Homo sapiens: one gene and its partner. The protein of the gene in region 1 purifies or fractionates together with the protein of each later gene. This does not show direct contact. Each region holds a gene or a part of one and is shown in the gene's direction. Other genes may lie near its edges. The genes, in order: ACP3 and ATP6AP2.

Region 1 (12,896 bases):
TTCTGCCTCCAAAGAAAGAAGAAGTAAAAACTAAAAGGCAGAAATGAAATCCACAGGCAGACATCCCGGCGCCAGGCCCTGGGCCTGGTAATTAAAGATTGACCCCTGACCTAACCGGTTATCTTATCTATAGATTATAGACATTGTATAGAAAAGCACTGTGAAAATCCCTGTCCTGTTCTGTTCCATTGTAATTACCAGTGCATGCAGCCCCCAGCCACATACCCCCTGCTTGCTCAATCGATCATGACCCTCTCACGCGGACCTTCTTAGAGTTGTGAGCCCTTAAAAGGGACAGGAATTGCTCACTCGGGGATCTCGGTTGTTGGAGACGTGAGTCTTGCCGAAGCTCCCAGCTGAATAAAGCCCTTTCTTCTTTAACTCGGTGTCTGAGGGGTTTTGTGTGCAGCTTGTCCTGCTGCAGTATGATAGAGATTGCTGGGGAAGCTGCTCTTTTAACTGGGGTGCTCAAGGAAAGCCATCCAAAGAGGTGAAGTGAGAGAATCAGCCCATCTGATGGAAGAGTGTTCCCTCAGAGGGAACAGTCAATGCAAAGTGCATCAAGTGGAAGCACATGTGGCTCGTTTGAGACATAAGGGATCAGTGTGGCTAGAATGGAGTAAGCAAAAGAAGCCTGATGGGAGGTGAGTTGAAGAGGTCATAGGAGCCAAATATAAGCAGAGCTTATATACCATGGAGGGCTTTGGATTTTATTCTAAGTGTGGTGGAATATGTTTAATAGGCCATTGACCTGGTTTGATTTAAGAAGTTCTTAAGGACAAACAGGACTTTCTAAATAGTTATTGTGTTTTCTTGTACTTTCATGCTACTACAAGAAGTTATCTGTTTAATATAAGACATATCAAACAAAAGCGGAGAGGGACAGGGTCAGAAACTGGAGCAGAAGATAGAAAAAGTTCTCTCTTCAATGGCTTAGAAGTTGGCCCATGTGAAGACAGGTGAACAGTGTTATGAAGCGAATTGCTTTCTAGGCCTACCTTCTATAACTCTGATACTCACTCAAATGAGAATTATCATGAAGTTAATGCTAGATATTTTACAATTTGTTTTCTGATTTTAATTAAAATATCTATTCATTATAAGACATTTGGAAAGTAGAGAAAAGTAGAAGAAAGAAAATGAAAACACATATAATCCCATCAACCCCCCAAAAAAATCACCATTAAAAATATTGGCCCATCTCTATTCTGTCTTTTCTTTGATACACATTTATACAAAATGAGATTACATCATATTTTTGTAAGTTCATTCTGTAAGCCTGTATTAAAGGTGAAATAGTAATAGGCCAATGTTTGCCTCCTGACTGTGAGAAAAGCAGCTTTGTTACACACATGAAGCATGAGGGGGCTAGCTCTATGCAAGTAATGACAGTCCGAGGAGTAGCTAGAGGTCAGCTCTGTTCAGTCTAAAAGACAAAAAGTCCTGAGTCCCATTCAGTCCTGAGTGCCTCAGTACAGTCAGCCAAAGCTGGATTCACCTCACCCAAGCCTGCATTTCCTCGTAGAGAGAATCAGAGAAAGTTAGATCATTTCATCTCAAAAGGAAAAAGTATGTTATCTCCAGCTTCCAATTCTTAGAGTCACGGCTGGGAATTAGTGTGAGGTGAGTGAGGCATTCTCCTTGGGCTCAACACTTAAGGTGTACCAAAAACCTATAATCAAAAGAAGGAATATTTTAATGCAAAATTTTGAAAAATAAAAATTAATGTTAAACAATCCATAATAAACAACATATCAAAATTTTATGTAATGACAGGATTGGTTTAATGATTTTTGCCTTTTGCCTTAGGCACCATTAAGTATTAGTGGGACATCATTCCTCATCTTACCTGAACCCACTGAATCAGAATTTCCAGGAGTGAGGCCCAGGAGAAGTCTGTTTTTTATTAAACTCTTTGGGTAATCCTTACACATGATAAATTTTATGAAGTCCTGGAAAGATGATCTCTGAAGTTTCTCTGTTGCCTTAGTTTGCATGTTCTGATGACTCAAACAGCCCTCTTGGAGGGGCCCAAGTAGCAAGGAATTGAAGGCAGCTTCTACGCAGCAGCCAGCAATTTAGGAACTGGGGCCCCCAAACAGCTTGCAAGGAACTGATTCCTGCCAACAACCACAGGAGCTGGGACAGGATCCCAGGCCTGGCTAACACCTTGATTGGAGCCTTGTGAAAAATCCTGAGCAAAAAGGCCTTTTACGTTATACTTAGACTCCTGATTCAGGAAAAAGGTAAGATAAGAAATGTGTGTTGTTTTAAGCCACTAAGTTTGTGTTCATTTGTTTCACAGCAATAGATAATTTTAATACTCTAAGTTTATATATATATATAAATTATATTTTATAATTAATATTAATTTTATTCAGTAATGTTTAAACTGGTTCAACCATGGACTCCATCAGTATTACAAGTAATAGATATGTGTTCATTTATTAAGGATATACTTCTATTGCCATGCTTATATTAAATATTGGAATATTTATTTTGTGGTAAATTATTTAGATAACAGCTTTATTGAAATATAATTCAGATGTCATAAAATTCATTCATTTAAAGTGTACAATTCAATAGTTTTTAGTATAGTCAGAGTTGTGCAAGTATCATTACAATCAATTTTAGACTATTTTTAGCAGCCCAAAAAGAGACCACATACCCCTCAGCCATCATCACCCTCCGCCTCCTTTCTCCGTGTCCTAAGCAATCTTTAAAAAATCTTAGGCTGTTTCCTAAGATCTTTCTATTCTGAACATTTAATACAAGTGGAATCATACAAATATGTGTTCTATTTTAGAAGGAATATCAACCTAATATTTTAAAGGTTCATCCATGTTGTAGCAGGTATCAGTACTTGGATCTTTTTTTAATGGCCAAATAATAGCCCATTTTAAAACAGTCCATTGTGAATAAATTTCCATTGTAAATCTTTTTTTTCTTTCTTAGGTAAAAAAATAAACAGAAATAAAAGTTTTAACACTTTCTTTACTTTTTAAAGTGTTAGACCATTGCATGAATCCCCTAGGTACACACACCTTAGTTGATGACATTCTTATGATACAGTCTTTGGTTTTATGGGGGATGTTTGTCTAAATACTAAACAATAAAATAGTTATTTTATGCCGAGGGCAAAAAGGCCCTCCACAAAATGATGGTTTGAGAAGAGGAGAACATTTATTCTAAAGCCATCTTATTAAATTTTGCCTCAAAGCAATTCACATTGTAACAGGGCTCTGATGCAGTCATTTGCATTTATATTGACAGTTGGTCAATCAGTATTATTGAGTACCCAATAGTTCATAAGGCCCTGAGAGTCAAATAATACAATTATGAAGGCCATAAGAAGCCAGACAGGTTAAACACAGTCTTCCTTGTGATGCTGGTGAACAGCCATATACTTACTGATGGATCTCACCTCCCAACTCAGACTCTTATGGTCAGAGGCATATTTAGTGCTTTCATAGGCTGTGATCTACTAAGGATCACAATTTTTTTCCTATAAGTGTTCATCATCATAGATTCTGTGTTACACTGCCCAAGGATTCATTGCTCCTAGCTCTTGGAAATTTGTTTGACATCACTCAGCTAGCAACCCCTTTGGGAATTATTTTGGCAGAAGAGAGTCACCTTTGCCTTATCCATGGTCATACTCCCTACCAGGGGCAGACTACGTCCAATGACTGGCTAATAAAAAAGGCCTGGCTCCTCACCTCAATTCAAGACAACCCTGAAAGGCCCTCCTATCTTCAGAACTTGTAACAGGGTCAGCTGACATCTTCAACAATATTGCATTACAAATCAACTTCTCCCTCTGCCCAACCTTGGTTATTTCTCTACCCACCACTGGAGTTAATCCTGAGTGCACTCCTTAATAAACTTCCTACATGCAAATATCTATCTGGGAGTCTGATTTTCAAAAATCCTAACCTGCTCCACTTATGGAACTTTCTAACTGTTCATTAGAACAGTTCATTTGAGGTTGAGCACTTGACATATAGAGAAAGAAGTACAACAAGAGAACACAAGTGATTCAGTCAGTAAGTCCTACTAATCATGGAAAATTATTGACACCCTAAACTCTTACATAAAGACTTCCCAGTGTTTTTTCAAATCTCACTTTTGATGTTACTATGATATGATTTGGCAGTGTCCCCACAAAAATCTCATCTTGAATTGTAACTCCCATAATCCCCACATGTCATGAAAGGTACCTGGTGGGAAGTAATTGAATCGTGGAGGAGGGCTTTTCCCATGCTATTCTTGTGACAGTGATTAAGTCTCATGAAATCTGATGGTTTTATAAAGGGCAGTTTCCCTGCACACACTCTCTTGCCTGCTGCCATGTAAGATGTGCCTTTGCTTCTCCTTCACCTTCCATCATGATTGTGAGGCCTCCCCAGCCATGTGGAACTTTGAGTCCATTAAATTTATTTTTCTTTATAAATTACCCAGTCTTAGGTATTTCTTCAAAGCAGTATGAACGTGGACTAATACATACTATATCCATATATTTATCCCAGATGACCCTTATGTCTTTGCAAAGACCTTATTGAGTTCAAAGTTCAAGGTGCCACAGAACATTCTAAAACAGGTTTCATCTGAGTTGAGGATCTTTTACACTCCATTTCATGGTGTTCAGGTTTTTCAAGACTCTACATTTATGACTTTGAATACTTCTTCTCCCCTTATAACTGAATGATCAAAGTGGAAGTGAGGATGATGATTGAGATAGAAGTATAAACCATTTAATTCAACTTGGATTAAGTTTGAGTTGAGATGTATTCAATTCAAGCAGGCTTTTTCTGGTTTTCAAAGAAAACTTTGTTGTTGTTGCCCTTCTCACTTGAAGAGCTAAAAGGACCCCACAGGCGGTACCACAGAAAAAATTAGGGTCTAGGTCAGAAAGAGGGTTTATCCAACCAGTGCAACATGGTATAGGTAGATTATAAAATCAGTCTTCATTATCAGGAAGGTCTAAGGCTATTGCTGAAATAGTTCCAAGCACCAGTCCAAGGGTGAGACAAGGAAGGAGATAGAACAAGGACCCAGGCAGATAGCTGAGAAAATAAGGCATTCAATAGAAGCAGACATCTGGCACAATTTAAGAAATGTGGTTCAGAAATTTGCCTGTGAATGGTACATAGGTGCTGGAGCTTCCTTTCTCAGATTGCCTGGTGCACACAGCAGGGATTAATGTATCAACTTCATGTATGCCCTGGACTGGAAAACCTCCCAATTTTTATTTCCTTTTTCTTGCACCCATTTCCTCAAAATCTTACTCATTAAAATTGACAGTGTAGACTGGCAGGTCGAGAATGTGATGGCAAAGAGAAAGTTGCAAGTTCCCTTGAATGGTTAATCCTAATCACACATGCATTTATTATTTGCACATTTTTTTTTTTTTTTGGAGGGGGGACAGAGTCTCACTCTATTGCCCAGGCTAGAGTGCAGTGGTGTGATCTCAGCTCACTGCAACCTCAGCCTCCCGGATTCAAGTGATTCTCCTGCCCCAGCCTCCCAGGTAGCTGGGATTACAGGCTCCCACCACCACACCTGGCTAATTTTTGTATTTTTAGTAGATATGGGGTTTCACCACATTGACCAGGCTGGTCTCGAACTCCTGATCTCAAGTGATCTGCCCACCTCAGCCTCCCAAAGTGGTGGGATTACAGGCGTGAGCCACCATGCCCAGCCTATTTGCGCATGTTTCCTACTGCCGGAAGAAGGAACAGTTCTCCCATATACCACATTCCAGGGCATCCTATGATCACATAAGAACACAATCCTCCTGCCACAGGTAAGCGCAATGTACCAGGAAACAGGTTGCGGGTAAACCATTGTTCTCCCTCTGCCATTATGATAGAAATATCATGACAGGCAGCTCTGCCCCCAAATCTTGCAAAATCTCAATGTGCACCTCAAGTTTGTATTGTTTTAGCCTATGATGGAACTGACAGGTTGGGGAAAATGGAAAGCAAAGTTCCATCAGTCTGGATCGCCTTTTGTAGTGTCCCCAGTGAGATCATAGCTGGAGAGGCAAGGATGTAACTCACTCAAAATTTAAGGCTTATGGCCAAAGTTGATGACTAATAATATAGAATTGTAGGTTTGGGCTTTTTGCTTTCTTAAAAAACTCTGTCAGGTTTGGAAAGGGACCTCCAATCTAATTTTGAGATACCACAGGTAATGTCCAATTGTCTTAAGGTGTGACTAAAATTTTTCTTTTGTTTGTTTTTTGTTGTTGTTTGTTTGTTTTGCTGTGTTTTGAGATGGAGTCTTGCTCTGTCACTCAGGCTGGAGTGCAGTGGCACAATCTCGGCTCACTGCAACCTCCACCTCCTGGGTTCAAGTGACTCTCCTGCCTCGCCTCCCAGGTAGCTGGGACTATAGGCATGTGCCACCACGCCAGGCTAATTTTTTTTTTTTGTATTTTTAGTAGAGATGGGGTTTCACCATGCTGGCCAGGCTGGTCTTAACTCCTGACCTCAAGTGATCTGCCCACCTCGGCCTCCCAAAGTGCTGGGATTACAGACATGAGCCACCACGCCCAGCCTAAAATTTTTCAAAATAAACTTGCTGTTACTTTTCTTCTTTAATTTAAAAATACCTCTATAGGCTACATGAGAGTTTTTGAAAAAGTAGCCATGTTTGGCATGGAAATAGGCCCCAAATATGTCAACACCTGTATTTCCTTCCAGATTTCAGTCCTATAACTTTGGACTCCCAACAGATTAAGAATCACTGGTCTAAGGTTTCTAAAGTCAGGGTAGATCCCTTTCCCAAGTGACAGCCACAAATCCAACGCTGTATCATACCCTATCTAAAGAAAAGATAAAAGTAAACTGGCTTGGCACAGTGGCTCATGCCTGTAATCTCAGCACTTTGGGAGGCCAAGGCAGGCGGATCATGCGGTTAGGAGTTGGAGACCAGCCTAACCAACATGGTGAAACCCCGTCTCTACTAAAAATACAAAAATTCGCCGGGTGTGGTGGTGCACGCCTGTAATCCCAGCTACTCAGGAAGACTGAAGCAGGAGAATTGCTTGAACCTGGGAGGCGGAGTTTGCAGTGAGCTGAGATTGTGCCACTGTGCTCCAGCCTGGATGACAGAGCAAGACTCTGTCTCAAAAAAAAAAAAACAAAAAACAAAGATAAAAGTAAACTGAAAACAAGGATAGAAATGTCTGCTAACATGCTCTGTGACCTTGATCAACAGCTTTCCCCGCTCTTGGCCTTGGTGTCCTAACTTAAATGGGGAAACTGTGATCTCTCTCAGCTCAAAATTTACATGACATTATTTACATACCAAACCTGCCCTACGCTTCCTGGAAACTTTACTACTTATGAGTGTGGCTCCTCCTTCCCTTTCAATCCCTTAATTAAATAGCTTCCCCTCTACAGGCTTTTGAAGTGGTAGCAGTTCCTCCTAACTCCTGCCAGAAACAGCTCTCCTCAACATGAGAGCTGCACCCCTCCTCCTGGCCAGGGCAGCAAGCCTTAGCCTTGGCTTCTTGTTTCTGCTTTTTTTCTGGCTAGACCGAAGTGTACTAGCCAAGGAGTTGAAGTTTGTGACTTTGGTAAGTAGACTTTTCTCATTGCTTTTTCCTTAAAACTGTGTTCCCAGCAAAGTCTGATAAGGCAAGCGTCAGGTTTCATCTTATCCTTGGATTGTTTCCCAGAGACCAGGCTCTGTTCAAACTCAGAAAGTGAATAATCAAGTTTTGCAAGTTCCTCTTAATGAAGACCTAACGTGTCCTAACAAAAATATTTTTTGGTCGCTGTTTTTTTAGGGGTTGCTTTTTATTTGCTTTTGCTGATGTTATTTATTTACTTACTTTACAACTGCCTTGAATTCAGATTCCTTTTGACAGCCACACCAGTCCAGAAGAAACCACAGCTGGCGCTGTTTATGTACCAAGAGCTGGCTTCATTCAATTTAATCATTATTTGTTTGCAAGCCAAAAAACAGTCATTTTCTGAATTAAGTAGTCCTTTCACCTTTGTTTATCAGGAAATTAGAACAACTATTTGTAAACAACCTTGAAGCATAAAAGTGAATCTAAATTTGGAATTTTAGGATGATTTTCTGATATATAGATTTAGTTGACGATTAAAATCATTGGCACATGTGACCAGTTATGAAAAAAGGTGGGGGGTGGCTGATGCATAATATCAAGAAAAGAAAATATACTGTTGACATTGTTTGAAAATAGATGGAAAGAGGGTTTGCAAAGTGAAGGGGATTCATCATGTTACCTAAGAGTCTGATTTTCTGTTTCTGTATCTTTTTTTCCTTCTGTTTCACTCTTTCTCTGCCTCTAAGCCTCTAAGCTGCTTCTTGCCTTTCCTCTCTCGTTTTCTTTCTCTTCCCTACATTTTTTTATTTGAGATAGTGAAAGTGGGCTGATAAGTAGGTAAATTTTCTTTCTGTCAAGAATACTCAAAAATTATTTTTATAATTTGAAGGAAAGTCACTGTTTCCTTAAAAATTAAAGTTCAGGCTTTTTTTTTTTTCAGCATGGGATATTCAAAGCTCTTTACTTTCTACAGAAAATATGATACCCATGTGCTTATTTGAATCATTATTCTTATAGTCCAGTAAATCCTTACTAGGTCATGAGTCAACAATGACAGAAAACCCAGTGAAACAAACTATCAATTTATTTACAAATGATTCACCAGCTGTCAGACTTCTGTGCAGAAAAAAAATATATAATACTGTGTGCCTTCTTTAGGGAAACCCATGTGAGCTAGGCTTGTACTTCTATCAGTAGTTTTCTTGCTAACATGTGCATGAGGCAAGTTTAGGGACTGTAGAAATTGTACTGCATCTGCCGTGCTTGTAATACTGTAAACCTGTGACAAGCTGGTTGAGTGGCAGTCCTCTGAGAAATCCAAGTTACTCCAAGCTCACTGTACATGATGTATTCCCTCCTCCATGTTTTACCCAAGTTAGCCCAGGCTAACTTCCTTTGACTACCAAATTGTTGTGGGTTTCCTATATTCAGGGACTGCAAGTTAATTCTTTCCTGAGGAAAGCCAAAATACAAAGCTAGCTCTCTTAGAACTAAAAAAATTAACAAATATTGCACAAAGCCAGTGTTAACTATTTTTTCCTACCATGATTTCCTTCCATTAATGGTAGATGAAGGGCCATTTAATACATCTTTCTTGGCCCTTATAAAACAACGTCCATCTAAGTACTTAAGCCAATAAACATCAGTTTCTTATTTTTATTGACTAAAGAGAATATTTGACTATAAGTGGTTAATTTATACAAATGAGATAACTCTTAGAAAATTATTAGGAGAACCAGAATTGTTTTAAAAGATGCCCATAACTAAAGTGGTAATATTAATGATAATAACCAATAGTCAATTGAGTGCTTACTGCAAGTACTTACTGCAATTGAGTGCTTACAAGGCACTGTTCTGAGTGTTCAATATGAATTGTATCACATAAGCCTGTCAACAATCCTCTAAAATAAGGTCGTTAAATAAAATATGGGATGACCATTTGAATTTGAACTTCAGATAAATAGCAAATAATTTTTTAGTCCCATGCAATATTTGGGCATCCTGTATGTTTATTTGCCAAATCTGGCAACCATTCTATAAAGTTTTGTAAAACTTATTATTCCTATTTTATAGATGAAGAAATTGAGGCACAAAAAGGTTAAGCATCTTGCCCATGGTCACACAGATGGAATGGTGGAGACAGAATTTGAACCCAGGCTCTCTGACCCCGGATGCCTTTCCCTTTATCACTAGACATGGTCTTTTCCTGCTGTGTGTATATAACCCAGCACATGGAGCTAGTCTGAGATCCCCCTGTAAGGTTTGCTGGATTAGCTTGACTCTGAATCAGCAGGTGGTTCCCTTGCTTTTCCTCTGTGATCCGAGAAAAATAAATCCTCCCCAATTCTGAAAAGCTGTTCTCAGCAGAAAGAGGAGGAAACTGTCCTTGGTTCTTGTTCTCGGACTAACTGAAGTGCCTGTGACCCATGAAATGCTAGTTTGACAAGTTGTTAACAGGTGTACATGGGGAAAAAATCAGTTTCAATAGTCAAGTTAGCTTTGGGAATAGAACTGGGTTAAACTGTGTTTAAAAGGTCTCTTTAATGCAGTAATCCTAAGTCTTTAACATGCTAATACGCACTGTGGCTTTCAAGGAAAGGATCTAGTGTTTTCCAAACTCTGTTTTCAAAATTTTGATTACAGCATTCACCTCCCTCTTTTTTTCCCCAATGTCCTGTAGAAAACACTGAGAGAACTGACATTTTTAACTTTATATGGAAAGAATCGTAAATATGGTGAATCTGGATGTCCTCATCAACCAGCTTCAAAGACTATCACCCATGCAATCTTGTTTCATCTGCATAGCCACTCATTTCCCACACACACCCACTTGAGTTTTTTAAGTTATTTCATGCACCATATCATCCAGAAATAGAAAAATGTCATTTTAAAGCATCCTGTCTCCCCTAACCCAGAGAAAACCCACAAGTTCAGCTGATCCAAGACAGAAAAATTCCATCTCATTTCACCGGTGTTAAGAAAGGAATGATGACTTACAAGGTATACACTCTTCTCATTCTTCATGGTTGACTTTCTTCATGCAGAATTCTTAATCAAGTAATATAATATTCTTGGGTTTTTTTTTTTTTTTTGAGACAGAGTCTTACTCTGTCGCCCAGGCTGGAGTGCAATGGCGTGATCTTGGCTCACTGCAACCTCCGTCTCCCAGGTTCAAGTGATTCTCCAGTCTCAGCCTCCCAAGTAGCTGGGATTACAGGCGTGTGCCACCATGCCTGGCTAGTTTTTGTATTTTTAATAGAGACTGGGTTTCACCACGTTGGCCAGGCTGGTCTTGAACTCTTGACCTCAGGTGATCCACCAGCCTTGGCCTCCCAAAGGGCTGAGATTACAGGCGTGAGCCACTGCGCCTGGCATAATATGATATTCTTGATGGAAGCAGCCTCCAAATTCTCAGCACATAATCTATATACTGGAATGGGTAACTTCCACATTATGGACATGAAGGACCTCCTAGCTACTAGGGAAGGTGGAGCTAGAGGATCACTTGAGCACAGCAGTGTGAGGCCACATTGAGCTAGGATCACACCATTGCACTCCAGCCTGGACAACAGGGAAAAACCCTGTCGCTTGGGTTGGCTTATAAAAAGAGGTACCAGAGGCTGGGTGCAGCAACTCACACCTGTAATCCCAGCACTTTGGAAAGCCGAAACAGAAGGATTGCTTGAGGCCAGGAGTGCAAGACTCCAGGCTGGTTAACATAGTAAGACCTCATCTCTGCAAAAAAGAAAAAAAAAAAAGATGGACCAGATAAAATTCCACTGAAAAGCAAAAATCAGGTCTCCTGCCTCAGTTCACAAACAACCTTACATACAATCTCTCTCCCTTGCTGTATGGCTCCTAATCACTGTATCCAAGGAACAGCCAAGCTGTCTGGAGACCACAGGTTTTTCAAAGACATTTGCCGGAAACAGCACCGTGCGCTGAGAGTTGGTACTGAGCCAGGCTCAGTTCAGTTTGCTTACATGAGCTTCTCCCCAGATTTATGCCAATGCATTTCACAAATTTTCAGGGTGCATTTGGCCAAGACATTTCAGCCAACCAGGTTATTCCTGTGGGTGCTTCTCAGTATCCTAAATGCAAAGGAATAATTAATTATTCCTCTCAGCCAAGGAAATAAAAGTAGGGAGAGATGATTAGAAATTAACAGAGGTATGTCTCGAAGGAGAGTGCTGTTTCCCATTGCTCAATAGGTAGTGCTCATTTGCCCTATATGCTGCAAATTATTGTCAGCAGGAAAGGAAGTATATATGTTAGCTAAGCTAAATGTCTGAATAATATAACAACAAAAATAATTATAACAAATATAATAATAAATCCCACATATCAAATGCATCCGGTGTGCTCGGTATTATACTGATGGCTTTACATATATTACACATTTAATTTTCATGATGCTCCTGGATGAGAAATAATGCTTTTGTGTTTTACACGAAAGGAAATTGAGGAAAGGAAAGGGAAATTGAGGCATGCAGAATGTTAAGTTAAATCATTTTCCCAAGGTCACCCAGCAGGACCTTGACAAAGCAGGAGTTTGAACCCAGGTCTAACCAACTGAAAACCCAGACCTTTTCTGATATATCACACATCTTCTACACAACATAATACACAGTTTTTACAGCTTCCCTTATTTGCAGGCCTCTGTGTTCGTCCCAGTCTCTGGATCAAAGTCTTATTAGACTTGTCCTGATTGCTTCACGGGGAGTACAGAACATATTCTCATGCTGATTCCTTTCAAGGTCAGCCAGCTTTCCTTCTAACCTCTGAAATGACACTCATTTACATTACTCAATTATTTCTGCCCAAACTATTTTATTTTTAATTTTCTTTACCAATGGATTTATTTCTTAGGTCCTAAAAGAAGAAAATAAAATAGACTTCTACTCATAGTTATCTTTGTGCATCACGAGATTTTCACAACTTAGAGTATACCCTAATAAAATAATAAGAAGAATTTAATGTCAGGAGATAAGGTTCCTTTTAGGACTTCCAGAATCACCCCAAAGTTTTATGATGTGTCTCCAATTCCAAACCTGAAAGGAGAACATGATGGTTTATGAGACTTCAATCCAGTCTGGAAGCAGACTCACTGTTCTAGAAGCAAAGGCACAAATGAATAGGATAGAGACTGCTACAATTTGAATGTTTGTCCCCTCCAAAACTCATGTTGAAACTTAATCCCAATGTAACAGCCTTAAGAGGTGGGGCCTTTAAGAGGTGATTGGGCCATGGGGGCTCTACTCTCCTGATGGATTAATGGATTAACAGATTAATGGATTAATAGGTTATCACA
Region 2 (8,967 bases), on another chromosome or scaffold:
CATAGTAGTGAAATTCTTTGTATATTAGAGAATGCATCTGTCCTACTCTTAATAGGATATCTACTTTCTGGTTTTTTTTTTTTAGTATAGGCGATAGATTCACTATGAATGATAAAATATATATGCATTATGCCTGAGGTTAGGAAAATAATGTGGTCAGTAGCCATGGGGCAGCCAAGGACCTTGGTTTCCTAGAATGGAGCTATGACCTGTTGTAGTAATTGGCTGCTTATGTGATTGTAGGGGGCGGGAGGGTCTAGATCCAGTCAATGTGAGAGATCGAAAGGTAAGGGCTCAGAAGAAAGGAAATACAGCTTGCTCGGTGCTATCATCTCCTTCTCTTTGTAAGTCTGGTGCTTTTGATGTGGTCTCTAGATATATATCATCAGTCACTGAAAGGAACTTTTCTCCAAATCCTGAGCACCCTTGAAAACAGAAACTCTACCTGGGAACTGCTTCACTGCCAGGCCTAAGGGCAGAGCCCCTGAGCTTTTTGTAGTCTTTGGGCAACCAAAGTGAACAGGATTGGTTGTTTACATTTAAGGATGAAATTTGTACCTAGTTATTTTTTTAGAGACAGGGTCTGGCTGTGTCACCCAAGCTGAGTTTGAGTCTGCATGACTCACTGCAGCCTCAAACTCCAGGGCCCAAGTGATCTTCCTGCCTCAGCCTCCTGCCTCAGCCTTCTGAGTAGCTAGGACTACAGATGCATGCCATCACGCCTAGCTGATTTTTTAATTTTTTGTAGAGACAGGGTCTCGCTATGTTGTCCAGGCTGGTAGGTCTTTAACTCCTGGCCTCAAGCAATCCTTTCTGCGTCAGCCTCCCAAAGTGCTGGGATTACAGGCACGAGCCACCACACCCAGCCTGTACCTAATTCTTTTTTTGTTTTGTTTTGTTTTGTTTTTTGCTACAGGGTCCCGCTCTATCACCCAAGCTAGAGTGCAGTGGCCTGATCTCGGCTTACTGCAACCTCCACCTCCCAGGTTCAAGAGATTCTCCCACCTCAGCCTCCCCGGTAGCTGGGACCACAGGCGTACAACACCATGCCCAGATCATTTTTATATTTTTTGTAGAGACAGGATTTTGCCATGTTGCTCAGGCTGGTCTTGAACTCCTGGACACAAGGAATCTACCTGCTTCAGCCTCCCAAAGTGCTGAGATGACAGGCGTGAACACCACACCTGACCATCTAGTTCTTTACAACCTTAAACTTGACTACTGATGGCTATTAAAATAACTGAGAAATAATTATTAGTAAACTAATGATAGTTACTTTTAGTAGGAATTGTTTTATTTATAAAGATCTTAGTCTAAAGAGGATGTTTTAATGACCATCTTGCTATGTCTCTGTGAAAGATAAAAGTGATGCTGTATATGAGGGCAAAAAATGATGTGGGGGAAGAAAATTTCCATGGCTACATGAAGAAAATATTTTGTGATCTGAAATTTGAAAGGTACCTATGTTTTGTTTACTTGCTTGCTTTTTTCCACAAAAGGTGTCAGATGACTTACTATTGGACTTTATTTCAAATCTGTAAAATTTTAAGAAAATGAAGAGGGTAGAAATCAGCATTCTTGATTAGGGGATTGCAACGACTGCCACAAATAAAATGTTTACTTTCCCTGTGAATTTTCCTTGTCAGTGTCATCTCAGAACCCCTTAACTCTGCTTATTAGATGTTATTGGGGAGGTGGGTTCCTGAGTTGATAATTAAGCACCGCTTTGTGCTTTTCAATGTTTAGGACCTTTCTTGGCCAGGACTCGCAGTGGGTAACCTGTTTCATCGTCCTCGGGCTACCGTCATGGTGATGGTGAAGGGAGTGAACAAACTGGCTCTACCCCCAGGCAGTGTCATTTCGTACCCTTTGGAGAATGTGAGTATTTATTATAAAAAATTAAAGGGATGCATTTTACATTTTCCCTTGTCAGCTGTCATTATGAATTGCATTCTAAACATACTTCTCTTATCTGTTTTTGATGCACAGTTTCTTTTGAAATTCTTTGACAAACACAATTTCTTTTTAAGAAAATTACATGATGATTGTAATTAACTGAGGCTTGGCTGTTCTCTGTGGATGAGAGTACTGTTTAAGATAAGAGATAGAGAAATTGCCCCACTCAGAATAGCCAGAGGCTTGAAAAAGAGAGCCACTAAAGGAGAAACCAGTTGGGGTTGTATCCTGCTACTGTTTTTTTGGCCATTGTCTTGTCATCTTCCCTGCAGGATTTTACCTCTTTTCGTGTGTAAGGACACTGGAGGCTGCTTGCTGGCTCACTTACTCCTTCACTGGCTATTCAGGCAATGTGGGTGACTGTGCTGATCTAAGAGGCCCTCCTTCCATTATAAGCATATAGAAGTGCTTGAAAGAATGTCACAAAAAACATTTTTACTAGCATAACTAAATTTGAATGCAAGAGGGGGTGATATACACAGGTGTTACATATGGATGGAAAACTCAGAAGCCATAGTGGTGAGCAGAAGCTGACGCTGAAACTGTGTTTCCTGCAGAAAGCCAGGGACTAGAAATGCTGTCAACTTGTTCTTGAAAAGCAGACTAGTAAAACTAGTAAAGCTGGCTTGCTGCCCTTGGCTGTTGGACCCAAAGAGTCCCCTGAGATAAATTAGAATTAGAATTATAGGCTTATGCTGTGCAGAGTGGTTCTTTGCAAATTCACATGACCTGCCCCATAGGGACATCTCCATAGCCAAGGGCTCCTTTGGTCAAATACGGAAGATGAGTGGAATTTACAAAGCACCTGAAGGAAAAAAAATGCCATGAGAAACAGGTGCAACAAACAGAATTCATCTCCTTAGAACTACGGAGAATAGGCCAATTTCCAAGAGATCTAAAAATACATACATTAAAATTGTGAAAAAAAGGGCCAGGCATGGTGGCTCACGCCTGTAATCCCAGCTTTGGGAGGCCAAGATGGGAGGATTGCTTGAGGCCAGGAGTTTGAGACCAGCTTGGTCAACATAGCAAGACCCTATCTCTAGGGGGAAAAAAAAAGAAAGAAAGAGAAAAAATTTGTGAAAAAAAGGAAGGAACAGAAACTATGAGGGAGTTATAAGACATTTTTGATACATGGTGCTTTAGCTGATACTTCAAAATATTTCATAATTTATATTGTGATTCTTTAACCCATGAGTTATGTAGAAGTATTTTTTCCAAATGCATGGGTTTTAAAAAAGTAATTTCTAATTTTTAAATTTCTAAGTTCACTGCATTGTAATACTGTGGTCTATGTGATGCTGAAGTTTTGGGATTTTTTTTTTTTTCAGACTTTCCTGTGGTCGAGTATAGATTATTTCCAAGTACACATGGCATACTTAGAAAAAATTACTGTGCAGTAGTCCACAAGGCAAATCTCAACAAACAATAAAGAATCAGTGTCATATAAACTAACTTCTCTGACCACAATGCAGTTAAATCTGAAAATAATAATAAAATGATATCTTAAAAGGGTATTTGGAGCCCGGCACCATGGCTCACGCCTGTAATCCCAACACTTTGAGAGGCCAAGGCGGGTGAATCACTTGAGGCGAGGAGTCCGAGACCAGCCTGGCCAACATGGCTAAACCCTGTCTCTACTGAAAATACAAAAATTAGCCAGGCGTGGTGGCACGCATCTGTAGTCCCAGCTACTCAGTGGCTGAGGCACGAGAATTACTTGAAACTGGGAGGTGGAGGTTGCAGTGAGCTGGGATTGCGCCACTGCACTCCAGCCTGGGTGACAGAGCGAGACTCCATCTGGGAAAAAAAAAAAGGTATTTGGATCAACATTTCTCCTTTCCCCATCCACCCGTCTCCCCCAGCGTCTTCTAACCATCATTCTACTCTACTTCTATGAGTTCAACTTACAAGTGAGGTCATGTAGTATTTGTCCTTCTATGCCTGGCTTACTTCACTTAACATAATGTCCTCCAGGTTTATCCATGTTGCAAATGACAGTTTCCCGCGCTTTAAAGGCTGTATAGTATTCCATTATGTTTATATACCACATTTTCTTTCTGCTTTTTTCTTTTTTTTTTGAGACAGAATCTTGCTCTGTCGCCCAGGTTGGAGTGCAGTGGCGCAATGTCATCTCACTGCAACTTCTGCCTCCTGGGTTCAAGGGATTCTGGTGTCTCAGCCTCCTGAGTAGCTGGGATTACAGGTGCATGCCACCACGCCCAGCTAATTTTTTGTATTTTTAGTAGAGATGAGGTTTCATCATGTTGGCCAGGCTGGTCTCGAACTCCTGAGCTCAGGTGATCCACCCACCTCAGCCTCCCAGTGGATCTCAGTGCTGGGATTACAGGTGTGAGCCACTGCACCCAGCTGCACATTATCTTTATCCATTCGTTTGATTATGGACACCGAGGTTGCTTCCATCCATATCTTAGAAATTGTAAATAGTGCTGCAGTGAACATGGGAGTGCAGATATCTCTTCAGCATACTGACTTCAATTGCTTTGGATATATATACCCAGAAGTGGGCTTGCTGGATCATGCTTTAGTGATCTATTGCACAAAATGGTGACTATATTAAATAATAATGCATTGTGTATTTCAAAATTGCTAAAGGAGTAGATTTTAGATACTTTTACCACAAAAAAAATATAAGTATGTGAGGTGATGGATTTGTTCATTAGCCTGATTTAATCAGTCTACTTTGTAAACTTATAACAAAACATAACATTGTACCCCATAAATATATACAGTTACTATTTGTCAGTTAAAAATAAAATAAAAAGTATTTGGAAATAGTAACAAACAGAAGATAACAACTCCTCAGATTTAAAGCATATGGAACACCCAGTAGGCAAAAGCCAGATCCACACCTACATACGGTGAAATTGAAGAGTCATCAAGGAAATGGAAAATCTTAAAAGCTGTGAGGGAGAAAAGACACTGTCATTACAAAGGAATGAGAGTAGAAGGAAAGCAAGGAAAATGTAGTGATTGTGTAGTATGAGCTAGGCTGAGTATTATTTGCATTGTCATAATAATGAAATGATGCTGATCAAGTGAAAATTTTGATATAACTATTGGGTAAGAGTGGGGAGATAGAAACAGAAGCAGAGCGCATGGATGGCTCAGCGCATGGATGGGGCAGTGGTTGGTGATGTGAGAGAGCTAAAGCCTCATTTTCTATAATGGATAGTAAATAGACAAGACCTAAAATTGAAAAATCAGGAGATGTAATTTAAGTGTCTTATTTAGAGATGTTAAAAGCAAAAAAAGTCAACAAGAAAAGATAGTTGGAATAGATGCACTCCTAAATAATTCATGGGTTGAGGAGGAAATCACTGTGGAACTTTTTAAATTATTTGGAACTGAGTAACAATGAATGTAGCATTTATTTACAAAATTGGGAGGTGCAGCTAACGTGGTAAGAAAAGGGAAATTTATAGCCTTAAATGCATGTTTTAGACAATTTAGGTTGTCTAAGAATGGAAATTAATGAGCTAAAGAAAGCGGAAGAACTTCAGAGTAAATACACATAAAGTAGAAGGAAGGGAACAATACAGATCAAAAGGCAGATTATTTCACAGGGAGCATTTAAGTCATTTTTTATGTGATTTCTGTGAAAATCATTGCAGAAGATTTTCTTTAAAATTATAAAAATCCAAAATGCCATTTTGAGATTTTTATTAGCATGTAATCCAAAAATAAAGATTTAAAAACAGACTAGCCTCATTTTACATGAGAAGAAGCTGTGCTGTGTGAGGAGCTCATTTTATTGCTTGGCCCTGGTTGGCTGCTCAATGCTTTTCCTAGCAGAAGATGGTAAATGAGATAAAAGATTCAGGGGCAAACCCCACAAAACATAAAAATCAGAGTATCTTAGAATTCCATTTAACGAAGCTTCCATTTGATTAGCTAGCTGTTTTAGTTAGAATTTCAAGTCATACAGGTACAGAAATTTGAGGACAGATATGCATCTCCCTTACAATACAGTGAGAGAAAAACCATCATTCGATATTAAGCAGCCAAGCTTTTTACTTTTTGAGCTTAGCTGCCTATATAATTATTTCTTTTCCTTCATTGGTGTTCATTTGATTCATGAGCTGCTTCAATTTGATCGCTATGGACATGGTTCCTAATCTTCAACTTTCCTGAACCGAGCGCCATTTCACTAAGTGAAGTGAGGCTGGAAAGTTTGCATCATTTGCTCATGTATTCCCCTCACAGCCTGAGGAGGTAAACTCTATGATCGCTAAAGGAAAGCACCTATAGATGATTCAGGGCGGCTGCTAGCAGTATGCTTTTGCAACTTTGAACTCTCTTCCCCCTCTTCACTTACTCATTAACTCATTTTGAGAGAATTTGGGGAAGAGTTAATAAGCATCTTGAGTAAGAGAAAAAAATTATTTCATTTCACAGAATCATAAAATTGATCACTTAATATTGATGCTGGGCCTGGGCATGGTGGCTCACGCCTGTAATCCCAGCACTTTGAGAGGCCAAGGCAGGCAGATCACATCAGGCCAGGAGTTTGAGACTAGCATGGCCAACTTGATGAAACCCCGTCTCTACTAAAAATACAAAAATTAGCCAGGCGTGGTGGTGCGTGCCTGTAATCCCAGCTATTCAGGAGGCTGAGGCAGGAGAATCACTTGTACCTGGGAGGTGGAGGCTGCACTGAGCCGAGATCGCGCCACTGTACTCCAGCCTGGGCAACAGAGTGAGGCTCTGTCTCAAAAAAAAAAAAATGTGATGCTGGGATTTTATCAGTAAGACATAATCACATTGATTTCTGCCTGTATCATATTAGCGTTACTTTGCTACTTGTAAACATGAATCTTTAAGTAGTAAGGGAACTACTGAATGAAAGATCAATGTAAGAAATCTCCATTAAAACAAAAACATGACTGTACTGCTTGTTTTAATACAGTAATACTGGGAATGAAATAATTTTTTTAGGGGAAAAATAACTGTAATTTATTTTTTTAAATCATGTACTGCAAAACAAATCTATGGGGATAGAAGTCAGAATTTTTGTTACCCTTGAGGGTGGAGGTAGTACTTCGAGGGCGCTGATAGTGTTCTGTGTCGATCTGGCTGGGCTACCTGAGTGCATGCATGTGTAAACATTTGTTGAGCTGTTACCCCAAGATTTGTATACTATATTATATGTATTTTGCACTTTAATAAAAAAATTGAAGGAAAAAAGTAGGTCTTATCACCATTGGTTATTTCAATCTAATAATATCAACATGTCCTAAGATAAAGGCTTCAAAAACCTTGTGACATACTTAACACCTTATCTAAGAGTCTTTAGGCTATCTGAAGACAAATGTTAAATCTCATTAAACATTTTTAAAATTTTGAAATGAAAGATGAATTCCATTTTTATTTCAATTAAATTCAATACTCAGATTCCTCTAACCTCTTAAATGCAAATTAAATACTTTATTGTGGAATATGCATTCATCGTGGCACATTTAGTCAATATTGAAACCAAATGTATTGCTGCTTCAAATACATGAATGACCACCAGAAAATGGTTTGTGCTAGATATAGTGTTGTGTCCATCAGGTTTAAGTTATTTTCCACTGAGGCATGATGGGAGATACAGACTTGGCTTACCAGGGGGCTGTTTAATCTTCTGTGCCCTCAAAAGGGCTTGTTTGGAAATGATTTCGGGCTTCTAAATTTCCATAGAAAGTGCTGGAAAAAAGTTTAAGGCTTCTTTTTAAATACCATCTGAATGATTTTTCTTCCCACTTTGGTTCACATAATAATTGCGTTCTTACTCTTAAATTTCAGGCAGTTCCTTTTAGTCTTGACAGTGTTGCAAATTCCATTCACTCCTTATTTTCTGAGGAAACTCCTGTTGTTTTGCAGTTGGCTCCCAGTGAGGAAGTAAGTGATAAGGGTTTTATTCAAGACATTTTAAAAAATAAGCTTTTATTATTTGAAAATTATGAAATGTAATTTTATTATGAAAATATAAAACTAATTTATGAACAATGTTGTCATACCTCTGGGTATTGGAACTAATCTGTAGAATTTGAGCAACTTAAAATTTTCTATTCTTCTTACAGAGAGTGTATATGGTAGGGAAGGCAAACTCAGTGTTTGAAGACCTTTCAGTCACCTTGCGCCAGCTCCGTAATCGCCTGTTTCAAGAAAACTCTGTTCTCAGTTCACTCCCCCTCAATTCTCTGAGTAGGAACAATGAAGTAAGTGCAGTTATTCAATGAATACATGAATATCATTAATTTCCGTCTTTTTAAAAAATAGAGACAGGGTCTCACTCTGTTGTCCAGGCTGGTCTTGAACTCCTGGCCTCAAGCAATCCTGTCTTGGCCTCCCAAAGTGCTGGGATCACAGGCTTGAGCCACTGCATCTGGCCTCCCATTCCTTATACTACTTGAAATTTTGGAAATTTTGCTATTTTAGAAAATGAAAGATTGTGCACATTTACTGCTGGGGTAGATTCTTCTTTAGTGTAATTTTCTTATGACTCTCATGAATAAACTGATCCTTTTTGTGAGTTGAGCTGTGGTAAATAACATCACATTTTAGCACGAGGGTTGCCACCTATTAATTCAAACAAGCCAGAGGTCATAGATCTACTTGGTGACTGGTGGAGCTGTGTGGATCTGGTAACTTGGAAGCCATTGTTCACTGCCTCTGCTGATTTGTTGCCACATTTTTCTCATTCATTCTGGACATTGCAGTGGAGGGAGCCACCTCTACTTTTGACTCCTGTCCTTCAGTTTCTCCATCTGCTCATGCGCCCTCTTAACCATGTGGCATGCCACTTTCGTGGTGGCCTCCCCTTTTTATTTGCTGTGGATGACCAGGGCCATCATCCTTTATTCTCTGATGTGGAAACTATTCAAGGGAAGTGAGCAAACTGGGCCAATGGTAGGATGTCATTGCAGAGTGCCAGGATATCCTGATGCTTTGAAGGAAAACCACTGGAGAACTTGGATGCTTTATCATGGTTTTGCCAAAAATATAGCT

The links.
Region 2: the proteins of ACP3 (region 1) and ATP6AP2 purify together in Homo sapiens (affinity purification with mass spectrometry; 2 studies listed by BioGRID and IntAct, with this or other methods). This does not show direct contact.

Annotation. Positions count from the first base shown.
Region 1 is NC_000003.12:132,309,992-132,322,887, forward strand, and holds the start of ACP3 (prostatic acid phosphatase isoform PAP precursor), read left to right. Parts: upstream 1-7,415; 5' UTR 7,416-7,465; coding exon 7,466-7,585; intron 7,586-12,896. UniProt on the Homo sapiens protein: A non-specific tyrosine phosphatase that dephosphorylates a diverse number of substrates under acidic conditions (pH 4-6) including alkyl, aryl, and acyl orthophosphate monoesters and phosphorylated proteins.
Region 2 is NC_000023.11:40,589,488-40,598,454, forward strand, and holds part of ATP6AP2 (renin receptor precursor), read left to right. Parts: intron 1-1,746; coding exon 1,747-1,878; intron 1,879-7,761; coding exon 7,762-7,857; intron 7,858-8,039; coding exon 8,040-8,177; intron 8,178-8,967. UniProt on the Homo sapiens protein: Multifunctional protein which functions as a renin, prorenin cellular receptor and is involved in the assembly of the lysosomal proton-transporting V-type ATPase (V-ATPase) and the acidification of the endo-lysosomal system.